Homo sapiens: one gene and its partners. The protein of the gene in region 1 purifies or fractionates together with the protein of each later gene. This does not show direct contact. Each region holds a gene or a part of one and is shown in the gene's direction. Other genes may lie near its edges.

What was found.
Region 2: the proteins of CLEC4F (region 1) and COLEC12 purify together in Homo sapiens (affinity purification with mass spectrometry; one large-scale study listed by BioGRID and IntAct). This does not show direct contact.
Region 3: the proteins of CLEC4F (region 1) and NPTX2 purify together in Homo sapiens (affinity purification with mass spectrometry; one large-scale study listed by BioGRID and IntAct). This does not show direct contact.

What each region holds. Positions count from the first base shown.
Region 1 is NC_000002.12:70,814,007-70,817,658, reverse strand, and holds part of CLEC4F (C-type lectin domain family 4 member F), read left to right. Parts: intron 1-170; exon of another isoform or gene 171-461; coding exon of another isoform or gene 462-546; coding exon 547-1,665; intron 1,666-3,652. UniProt on the Homo sapiens protein: Receptor with an affinity for galactose and fucose. Could be involved in endocytosis.
Region 2 is NC_000018.10:347,118-350,769, reverse strand, and holds part of COLEC12 (collectin-12), read left to right. Parts: intron 1-2,606; coding exon 2,607-2,705; intron 2,706-3,428; coding exon 3,429-3,652. UniProt on the Homo sapiens protein: Scavenger receptor that displays several functions associated with host defense. Promotes binding and phagocytosis of Gram-positive, Gram-negative bacteria and yeast.
Region 3 is NC_000007.14:98,623,686-98,627,337, forward strand, and holds part of NPTX2 (neuronal pentraxin-2 precursor), read left to right. Parts: intron 1-1,236; coding exon 1,237-1,481; intron 1,482-3,479; coding exon 3,480-3,652. UniProt on the Homo sapiens protein: Likely to play role in the modification of cellular properties that underlie long-term plasticity. Binds to agar matrix in a calcium-dependent manner.

The sequences.
Region 1 (3,652 bases):
TCCATGGAATTTGCCATCATAAAACTTATGTTTGTGGTGGTTTTTATCAAGTAACAATGGTGAATCAAGAGGCTCTATGCTTGGTGTACAAATATAATGTAGGACTAACCACAGGCTTTATTCATACCTATTTTCTTTCCCATAATGACCCATCTGTGGTGAAATTCCAGTAAAATTAAACTTCAACAGCTCTAAATGATAAAATCAGTTACTTTCAAGTTGAGCAATTATAACGACAAAATAATCCAAGCCTTACCAGCATGACTCCTGGTGGCAGCTGGCTTACAGCAGGCAAGCATTTCAATCCTTCTGACCCCTTCATTTGTGTGTAACAGTGAATTAGATCTTTGTTTCTTGGCCCACATTCTCAGGTGGACCGTCCCCAGGGTCTGGGTGGCTGTGTGACCAGGAGGGTGCTTGGGGGAGCACTGAGGGCTGTGCAGTACCCATTTCCCTTGGAAATGTTAGAAACACTCTGGGTGGCCCATAAAATGCTACCCTACATAATGGGCCTCTTTGGCTGCCTTCTTCACTTCCTCCCTCCAGATCATCACCACTTTGGCAGGGAGGCAGAAATGCGAGAGCTTATCCAGACATTTAAAGGCCACATGGAGAATTCCAGTGCCTGGGTAGTAGAAATCCAGATGTTGAAGTGCAGAGTGGACAATGTCAATTCGCAGCTCCAGGTGCTCGGTGATCATCTGGGAAACACCAATGCTGACATCCAGATGGTAAAAGGAGTTCTAAAGGATGCCACTACATTGAGTTTGCAGACACAGATGTTAAGGAGTTCCCTGGAGGGAACCAATGCTGAGATCCAGAGGCTCAAGGAAGACCTTGAAAAGGCAGATGCTTTAACTTTCCAGACGCTGAATTTCTTAAAAAGCAGTTTAGAAAACACCAGCATTGAGCTCCACGTGCTAAGCAGAGGCTTAGAAAATGCAAACTCTGAAATTCAGATGTTGAATGCCAGTTTGGAAACGGCAAATACCCAGGCTCAGTTAGCCAATAGCAGTTTAAAGAACGCTAATGCTGAGATCTATGTTTTGAGAGGCCATCTAGATAGTGTCAATGACTTGAGGACCCAGAACCAGGTTTTAAGAAATAGTTTGGAAGGAGCCAATGCTGAGATCCAGGGACTAAAGGAAAATTTGCAGAACACAAATGCTTTAAACTCCCAGACCCAGGCCTTTATAAAAAGCAGTTTTGACAACACTAGTGCTGAGATCCAGTTCTTAAGAGGTCATTTGGAAAGAGCTGGTGATGAAATTCACGTGTTAAAAAGGGATTTGAAAATGGTCACAGCCCAGACCCAAAAAGCAAATGGCCGTCTGGACCAGACAGATACTCAGATTCAGGTATTCAAGTCAGAGATGGAAAATGTGAATACCTTAAATGCCCAGATTCAGGTCTTAAATGGTCATATGAAAAATGCCAGCAGAGAGATACAGACCCTAAAACAAGGAATGAAGAATGCTTCAGCCTTAACTTCCCAGACCCAGATGTTAGACAGCAATCTGCAGAAGGCCAGTGCCGAGATCCAGAGGTTAAGAGGGGATCTAGAGAACACCAAAGCTCTAACCATGGAAATCCAGCAGGAGCAGAGTCGCCTGAAGACCCTCCATGTGGTCATTACTTCACAGGAACAGCTACAAAGAACCCAAAGTAAGTGGGAGAGGGGAGTCGCGTTTGGGGAGGGCACAGTCTCTTGAGAGGGTAGAGTCTTCCATCTCATCAGCCTCTTTTTTACTGCAACATGCATCTCCTTGACCAAATCCAGGGAAATGGGCCCAAGGAAACTGGGCAGTTGTAGAGATGGTGTGAGGTGGGAAGTTCCTGCTCTCAAGTTGCTTATAACCTGGTCACGGTGACCAAATGAACACGGGAAACCAACTGTAAATGGTGCACGTGTGTGATAAGGACGGCATGGGCTAGTGGGCCACACAGCCTTATTTCTGACTTCCTGATACCCCAAATGGTATGACCTTGAGCCTGTTACTTACCTTCTCTGAGCTACACTTTTCTCATCTGCAAGGGGGAGACAATAATATTTGCATCACAGTGAGGATCCAATGAGTTCACACATGTAAGGCCTTTAACAAAGTACCTAGCATTCATGCCCTCACCCGATGCTTTATTGAGGCCCAGTGGTGTGCTGGGTAAAAAGGTGAATAAGGTGTGATAGGTACCCTTGAGAAGCTTACAGGCTAGTAGTACAGACTTGCATGAAAGACATACAGACAGGTATAAGGCTGATAGGTTAGAAGCAGGTACTGAGAACTGGGGTTGGGGGCAGAACAAAAAGAAGGGAAAAGGAATCTTCTAGGGGGAGGGAAGAGATCTGTGGGGAAAAGATCAAAAGATGCTTTGTGAGAAGATGGCTCTTGAACTTCATCCTGAAGGATGAGTAGGTGTTTGCCAAGCAAATAGGGTTTGCAGGCATGGAGACACAAAATCATGAGATTCTGGAAACTTCAGGCAGTTCTCTTTGACTGGCCTGTGGACAAGAGGGCAGCTGAGAGACAGAAGGGAGTGTTTGGGGCAGCCACTGAAGAAATGGGGGCTAACAAATGAGGGCTTGGTGGGCAGCAGTGACGTTCCACTTTACTGCTTTGCCCGGTTCCTGGTCTGGGGTCAGAGGCCCCACTTCTTCACACATCTCCTAGTGCCCCAATGTCCTTATTCCTCCCAGCTCTCACTGCTGCTTTAGCTGGGCCCAGTGTTTCTCCACTTTGGGGGCACACTGGAATCGCCCAAGGAGCTTTGAAAATACTGATGCCTGGGGACCCACCTCCAGAACTGTGATTTTTTTTTTTTTTTGGTGAGGGTGTCTGGCATCAGTATTCTTTTTTAAATGCCTAGGTGGATCTACTGGCATCTGGGCTGAGAACTATTAGCTTAATTTTTTTTCTTAAAGGACAAAGAACTAGATATCTTAGGCTTTGGGGCTGTACGATCTCTGTTACAACTACTCAACTCTGTTCGTAATTATAAAGCAAAAGAAAAAGACAGTAAACTAATGAGCATGGCTACGCTCATAATAAAATAAATTTTATTAAAAAGACACTGCTGACAGGCTAGAGTTTGCCAATGGTTGGTTTAGATGACTAGTTCTGGGCATCAGAACCCCCAGAGGGCTTGCTGAAGCAGATTGTTAAAACATAATTTTGGATTCAGTAGGGCTATGGTGGTCCTGAAAATTTGCATTTCTACCACGTTGTCAGGTGATGCTGATGGTCTGGGACCACACTTTTCGAACCCCTGATTTATACCCATCTCTTACTGGGACTTTCGCCATTGTGTTATCATTGGTGTTTCTGTCCTCATTAGGAGTACCTTCTTCTGGTTCAGCTTCCACCAGGTTGACGTTTTTCCAGTGCAAATCTGGACATATTACCATCCTTCTCAAAACCTTGCAGTGCTTCCCATTGCTCATAGGGAAAAAAAAATCCAAACTGTTTCACATGGGATGTACCATTTAGTGCTGGTGAACCTGTCCAAATTCATCACTCACCCATCCTTTATGTCCCAAGAATACCAAGTAGCTTGAATAGATCAGGCTGTGCCCGGCTGTTCCTGACCTTTATGCCTTTGTGCTGATCCTTTTCCCTGCCTGGGGTGCTCTCCTTAACATTGAACACCTGGCAAACTC
Region 2 (3,652 bases), on another chromosome or scaffold:
TTTTAGTAGAGATGGGGTTTCACCATGTTGGCCAGGCTGGTCTTGAACTCCTGAGCTCAAATGATCCACCCACCCCAGCCTCCCAAAGTGTTGGAATTACGGGCGTGAGCCACCATGCCCGGTCTGAAGTCTTTTTTTTTAAGCTATTGATACTAAGAAGGACAGTCAGACTTGATCCCAAGCTGCTAGAAGCTGTATCTCACATAAATCACTTTTGGAGAAACATCCTCTTATTTAACATTTTAGAAACGTGTACTTGAATTCATAACTGTAGAGAATTACTGCCTTCTGAAAATGAATAAGAACTGAAGCTTTTATTTAGTGTGGCTGTATTAGTCCGTTCCCATGCTGCTGATAAAGACATACCCGAGACTGGGAAGAACAAGAGGTTTAACTGGAATTACAGTTCCACATGGCTGGGGAGGCCTCAGAATCATGGTGGGAGGCAAAAGGCACTTCTTACACGGCAGCAGCAAGAGAAAGTGAGAAAGATGAAAAAGTGGAAACCCATCAGATCTCGTGAGACTTATTCACTACCATGAGAACAGTATGGGGGAAACCGCCCCCATGATTCAAATTATCTCCCACTGGGTCCTTCCCACAACACATGTAAATTCTGGGAGATATAATTCAAGATGAGATTTGGGCGAGAATACAGCCAAACTGTATCATTCCACCCCTGGCCCCTGCCAAATCTCATGTCCTCACGTTTCAAAACAAATCATGCCTTCCCAACAGTCCCACAAAGTTTTAACTCATTTCAGCATTAACCCTAAAGTCTGCAGTCCAAAGTCCCATCTGAGACAAGGCAAGTCCCTTCCGCCTATGAGCCTGTAAAATCAAAAGCAAGCTAGTTACTTCCTAGATACAATGAGGGTTACAGGTATTGGGTAAATATAGCCTTTCCAAATGGGAGAAATTGGCCAAAACAGAGGGGTTACAGGCCCCATGCAAGTTCAAAGTCAGCAGGGCAGTCAAATTTTAAAGCTCCACAATTATCTCCTTTGACTCCAGGTCGCACATCCCGGTCATGCTGACGCAAGAGGTGGGTTCCCATGGTCTTGGGCAGCTCCACCCCTGTGGCTTTGCAGGGTACAGCCTCTCTCCCTGCTGCTTTCATGGCTGGTGTTGAGCATCTGTGGCTTTTCCAGGTGAACGGTGCAAACTGTCAGTGGATCTACCCTTCTGGGGTCTGGAGGACGGTGGCCCTCTTCTCACAGCTCCACTAGGCAGTGCCCCAGTAGGGACTCTGTGTGGGGGCTCCGACACCACATTTCCCTTCCACACTGCCCTAGCAGAGGTTCTTCATGCACATCCCACCCGTGCAGCAAACCTCTCCCTGGGTATCCAAGAGTTCCCATACATCCTCTGAAATCCAGGCGGAGGTTCCCAAACCTCAATTATTGATTTCTGTGCACTCACAGGCTCAACAACACATGAAAGCTGCCAAGGCTTGAGACTTGCACCCTCTGAAGCCACGGCCCCAGCTCCACATTGGCCCCTTTCAGCCATGGCTGGAGTGGCTGGGAAGCAGGGCACCAAGTCCCTAGGCTGCACACAGCATGGGGACCCTGGGCCTGGCCCACGAAACCATTTTCTCCTGGGCCTCCAGGCCAGTGATGGAAAGGGCTGCCAGGAAGGCTCTGACATGCCCTGAAGACATTTTCCCCATTGTCTTGGGGGTTAACATTTGGGACGGCAAGAGAAAATTAGAAAGATGCAAAAGTGGAAACCCCTGATAAGACCATCAGATCTTGTGAGACTTATTCACTACCACCAGAACAGTATAGGGGAAACCACCCCCATTATTCAAATTATCTCCCACCAAGTCCCTCCCACAACACATGGGAATTAGGGGAGTATAATTCAAGGTGAGATTTGGGTGGGGACACAGCCAAACCCTATCAGTGGCATTACTTTCCCTATCATATGCAATCAAGAAAATACTACCAAAAAATACTTCTTGGCAAATCATTGTTTGGAAACACCACTCAGGCATCTACTTGAGAACTGACAAACTACAGAATCAGTTGTCACTAACAAAAAGCAGATTTTCAGGGCCTTGTGGTGGAACTCATAACAGAAAGTGGCAGACACTCTTGACTTTGCAACCTTTCTATGCCGATTTTGTGTATAGAATTGAGCTGGGTTTTCCTTGCCAATGGAATCCTCTTCTAGGTAAATGAGTCCCACCTGCCAAGAATGTTAGGGAAGCTGATGAGTGACAACATTTTGTAAATTATCACAGTGTGCCTTGCCTTCATCTATGGAAATTAATATAGGAAATAGCAGATTAGGGACTTCTAAAATGCATGAAAATTTTTAAATTAGTTCCAAATGATTTCTGAAACATCCAAGGCATTACAGAATCATAAGAATAGTTAAGAACATACAATTCTCAACTAAGTAAATTGTACCCCTGGGTTTTGTGACAAGTAAGTTATTTTTCCAAAAAGATGGCTTTTCTTTCCTATATTTGATTTCAGTTACACTGTTTTCGTTCAATCTGTTTCCTTTGTTCCATAATGAAATGATCTCTTGTTTTGAAACTGAAAAATAAAATATGAGCAGATATGTATACTAATGCATCATTTTCCAAATCTTAGTTGTAGAGAAAATGGACAATGTCACAGGTGGCATGGAAACATCTCGCCAAACCTATGATGACAAGCTCACAGCAGTGGAAAGTGACCTGAAAAAATTAGGTAATCTGTGACAAGACTAAACCATGAAATCCCCTGACTCTACATAAATGACCACAGCTTCTTAGAATGATGTTGCTATAAACTCCCCATTCACCCGGAAGGACATTCAATTTTTGTGTTGCATGTTGAGTCTCCCCTCATGATTTAATTCAAATGCTTAAATTTTAAAGTTAAGGGTCAGTTTTGGAATTAAGTCCTGCCAAGAAAACTATTATGTGCCAAATAATATCTGAAGATCAATCCTGACTGAAAAAAAACACAAATACCCTTTATTAAAAACTGTCACATAAATAGGAATTTACTGAGCATTTTTGAAATACTTTAAACTACATAGAATTGTAGAAATTAAGTTATAAAGTGAAAGATCCTAGCATATTCTATTCCTTGATTTTTGCTTTCATTAAAAAAAAATTTGGGAAATTTAAAAGGTTAGTTTCTTCTTGACAGCCTGCCCACTGCCCTAAAATCTAGTAAATTCCCCCTCCCTCTTTGAGAAAAATGTTCAGCCAAGTTTGTCATTCCTAGTTCTGAGCTTCTTTTCCGATTCCCCAGGACCCAGTTTTAATAGATATGTACATTTTACTAATGCAGAGCTGTCCGCTTATACTGCCAATTTTGCATCTAAAATACAGTGCATACCGATTAAGTGTGTTCGGGATCTTTGGCCTTGCCTGAACACTTCTCCATACCACCAATATAAGTCACAGATATTTCTTATTCCAGGTGACCAAACTGGGAAGAAAGCTATCAGCACCAACTCAGAACTCTCCACCTTCAGATCAGACATTCTAGATCTCCGTCAGCAACTTCGTGAGATTACAGAAAAAACCAGCAAGAACAAGGATACGCTGGAGAAGTTACAGGCGAGCGGGGATGCTCTGGTGGACAGGCAGAGTCAATTGAAAGAAACTTTGGAGAATAACTCTTTCCTCATCACCACTGTAAAC
Region 3 (3,652 bases), on another chromosome or scaffold:
TGCTTCACCTCGGCAGTGGTAATTCTTTCATGTGAGGAGTGACACAGACTCATTCACTTGACAAGTGTTTATTGGGTGCCTGGGTCCCTGTAAGACTTCCTTCTTCTAAGCCCAAGTCTCCAGGGTTCCTAGATCCTGCGAAGATTTCAAGGAAATATCTGAAGTTATAAGATGTGGCTAAGGACGCAGTTTCTGGCTTAACACAAGAAAATTAAATCTACCTTTCTTCTGCTCCTTCCTCAAGCTTTCTAGTCACCTAATATGACTTATGAAAAGAGAGTATTAACTAGAAGGAACCAGACAGAGCCTCTGTCACCCAGGTGGGAGTGCAGTGATGCAATCATAGCTCACTGCAGCCTGGACCTCCTAGGCTCAAGCGATCCACCTCAGCCTCCTGAGTAGGTGGAACCACAGGTGTGTGCCACCCTACCCAGCTAATTTTTATATTTTTTGTAGAGATGAAGTCTTGCTGTATTGCCCAGGCTGTTCTTGAACTCCTGGGCTCAAGCAGTCTTCCCACCTCAGCCTCCCAAAGCACTGGGATTACAGGCATGAGCCACTGCACTTGGCTAATTTTTTAAATTTTTTGTAGAGACAGGGTCTTGCTATGTTGCACAGGCTGGTCTCGAACTCTTGGCCTCAAGCAATCCTCCTGCCTCGGCCTCCCAAAATGCTGGTATTATAGGTGTGAGCCACTGCACCCATCCAAGAGCTTTTTTTCTTCTAGATTTCAAGAGGCCTCTTTTCCTGTCCTAAAAGATGGAGCTAAATTCTCTAACGTGCCCCATGCAGTGCCCACAAAATCTTCCTTTTCTTTCCTTTTCTGGGCGTCCTTGGGGCCCTGTACTTGCTGTCACCTGTGTCTGGGGTTCTCTTCTGCAGGTCTTTCCAGGCCTTCCCTGCATCCTCTGCCTTCCCTCCCCCGGCCACTCCCCGTCTTAGCAGGAGCCACTGCCTGGACTTCCCTCGCGTACCTGCTGCTGGTTTCATGTCACCTTCCCTGCCTGAATGTAAGCTCCCTAAGGACAAGGACTCCATCTTGTGTCCTGAATCCTGCCAGACTTCAGCCTTTTATCAGTGGCTGGTGTGGAGCGGTCTTTGGTCGCTTGCTGGAGGGTCCATCAAGGCTGTGTGAGGGACCTTCTTGTGGGTCTAGCAAGATGTGGCTCTGGGCCGTGCTGGTGGGTGGTGGGGTGGCCTAACGCACTCCTGGCCTCTCTTCCTCCCAACCCCCAGGCAATAGCGCCTTTAAGTCACCAGATGCGTTCAAGGTGTCCCTCCCACTCCGCACAAACTACCTATACGGCAAGATCAAGAAGACGCTGCCTGAGCTGTACGCCTTCACCATCTGCCTGTGGCTGCGGTCCAGCGCCTCACCAGGCATTGGCACCCCCTTCTCCTATGCGGTGCCAGGGCAGGCCAACGAGATCGTGCTGATCGAGTGGGGCAACAACCCCATCGAGCTGCTCATCAACGACAAGGTGAGGCCCGCCTGCACCGCCACCCTCCCCAGAACCCATCATGTGGTGGAGGGAGCCACAGCCCCCACCCCAGCCGTCCTCGCCCTCCTCGGGCCACACAGCAGTGTCCCAGACATGGGACTGCGGGGCTGTCCTCCTCGAGGTGGGGATAGCTTTGCACACGCCGGGCGGCTCACAGGGGCGGGGTGGGGAGGGGCCGAGCTGTGAGTCCAACCACCAAGCTGCAGAAGGTCCAGGCACCTAGGCCATGGAAGGGCAGAAGGAACAGATCTCCGTGTGCAGCCTGGATTGAGAGAGGACCTCAGGCCGGTCAGTGAGGGCTGTTCCCCAGGGCCACACTGATTAAGGGGGTGTGTGTGTCTCAGTGTAAGAGACTCCCCACAAGCATATTTTGGTGGGGGTCAGGTTTCTAGAGATATAATTTACATACAGCAAAGTGTACCCATTTTAATGTACAATTCAGGAAGTTTTAACAAATGCACACAGTTGTGTAACCACCACCACGATGAAAAAATATAAAACAGTTCCATCACCCCCCAAAACCCCCTCATACCCCTTCATAGTTAACTCTGATCCCAGCCCCAGCCCATGGCCATTGCTGACCTGTTATGTATACCCATGGTCTTGCCTTTTCCAGAGCAAATGCCCCTTCTTAATAGACTGCTTGGTTTTGGCATTCAGGAGTGGTCTTCTCAAGGGCTGGGCATGGTAGCTCATGCCTGTAATCCCAGTGTGTTGGGAGGCCGAGGCAGGAGGATTGCTTGAGCCCAGGAGTTCAAGAGCAGCCTGGGCAACATAGCAAGACCCCTTCTCTACAAAAAATTAGAAAGTTAGCTAGGTGTGGTGGTGTGCACCTGTAGTTCCAGCTACTCGGGAGGCTGAGGCAGGAAGATGGCTTTGAGCCCAGGATGTCGAGGCTGCAATGAACTATGATCGCACCACTGTACTCCAGCCTGGGTGACAGAGCGATACCCTGTCTCAAAAAAAAAAAAAAAAAAAAAAAGGCCACTTTGGGCCTCCTGGGGACCTCTCACAGCCCTGCTTCCAAACTTTCATTCTAATGGCAGACTCCATATAACAAAAAGAACATTCTCAGAACCTGTCCGGATTTGGGCATTTGAGTGGCTACGCAAACTCCCTGCCACCCGGGCCACCCCTGGTGGAGGCGGGGGCAGTTCAGCCCCTCACTCTGTTTGTCCTCACTGAACTGCCCTGGGTGGAGTCTGTCGAGGTTTAAAAAACGCTGTGGCATCAGCCTGCTGGGCTCCTCCTAGATAGACCCCCTTGCCTGAGCCAGGGGTTAAATAATTGTTCTAAATAACACCCTATGACACAGTGGGGCTAAGAGCCTTGTTGTCCTCTGGGTTTGGACGGCTTGTAAACATCGAATTCCTGGGAGGGAGGCTTCGGGTTGCTAGGAGACCAGCAGCAACAACGCGGTGGTTCATAGGCGAGCCTGCATAGAAAGTGCTTGCAGGACCGCCAGGGACCCGGCCAGTGGCAGCGTCCTCCCCCCAGTTCCTCACGCTGTCCGTGAGTTCCCTGCTCACACAGATACTCACACACGTGCCGCTGCGCAGGGAGGACGGGGCACACCCGCAGCACACAGATCCCTGCGTGCCATCATGGAGGTTTGGGACTTGGCATGAGGAATGAGGATCTCTCGTCTGTTTTCCAAGGAGACTGGCCCCATGGAACGCTGACTTCCCGAGTTTCTCTGGCATGGAGAGCTCAGGGCCAGCGTGGGGGTGTTGACCCTCACATCTGTTCGGTCCTCAGCCACGCCAGGCACCAAGGGTGTCCCATTAATGTGAGGGCTGCTCTGGGGTCAGGGTTTCCACCAAGGCTGCCCCCTTGCATGTTCTCCACGCATGACCCCGGTGACAGGAGGAGCAGTGTGGCCCAGGGGGACTGTGGGGTGTCCTTCCTGCTTCCTGCCCTGGGGGACCCTGAGGGCGTGGGCCCAGCAGGTCCTTACCTGCACATTGCTGCTCACAGGTTGCGCAGCTGCCCCTGTTTGTCAGTGACGGCAAGTGGCACCACATCTGTGTCACCTGGACGACACGGGATGGCATGTGGGAGGCATTCCAGGACGGAGAGAAGCTGGGCACTGGGGAGAACCTGGCCCCCTGGCACCCCATCAAGCCCGGGGGCGTGCTGATCCTTGGACA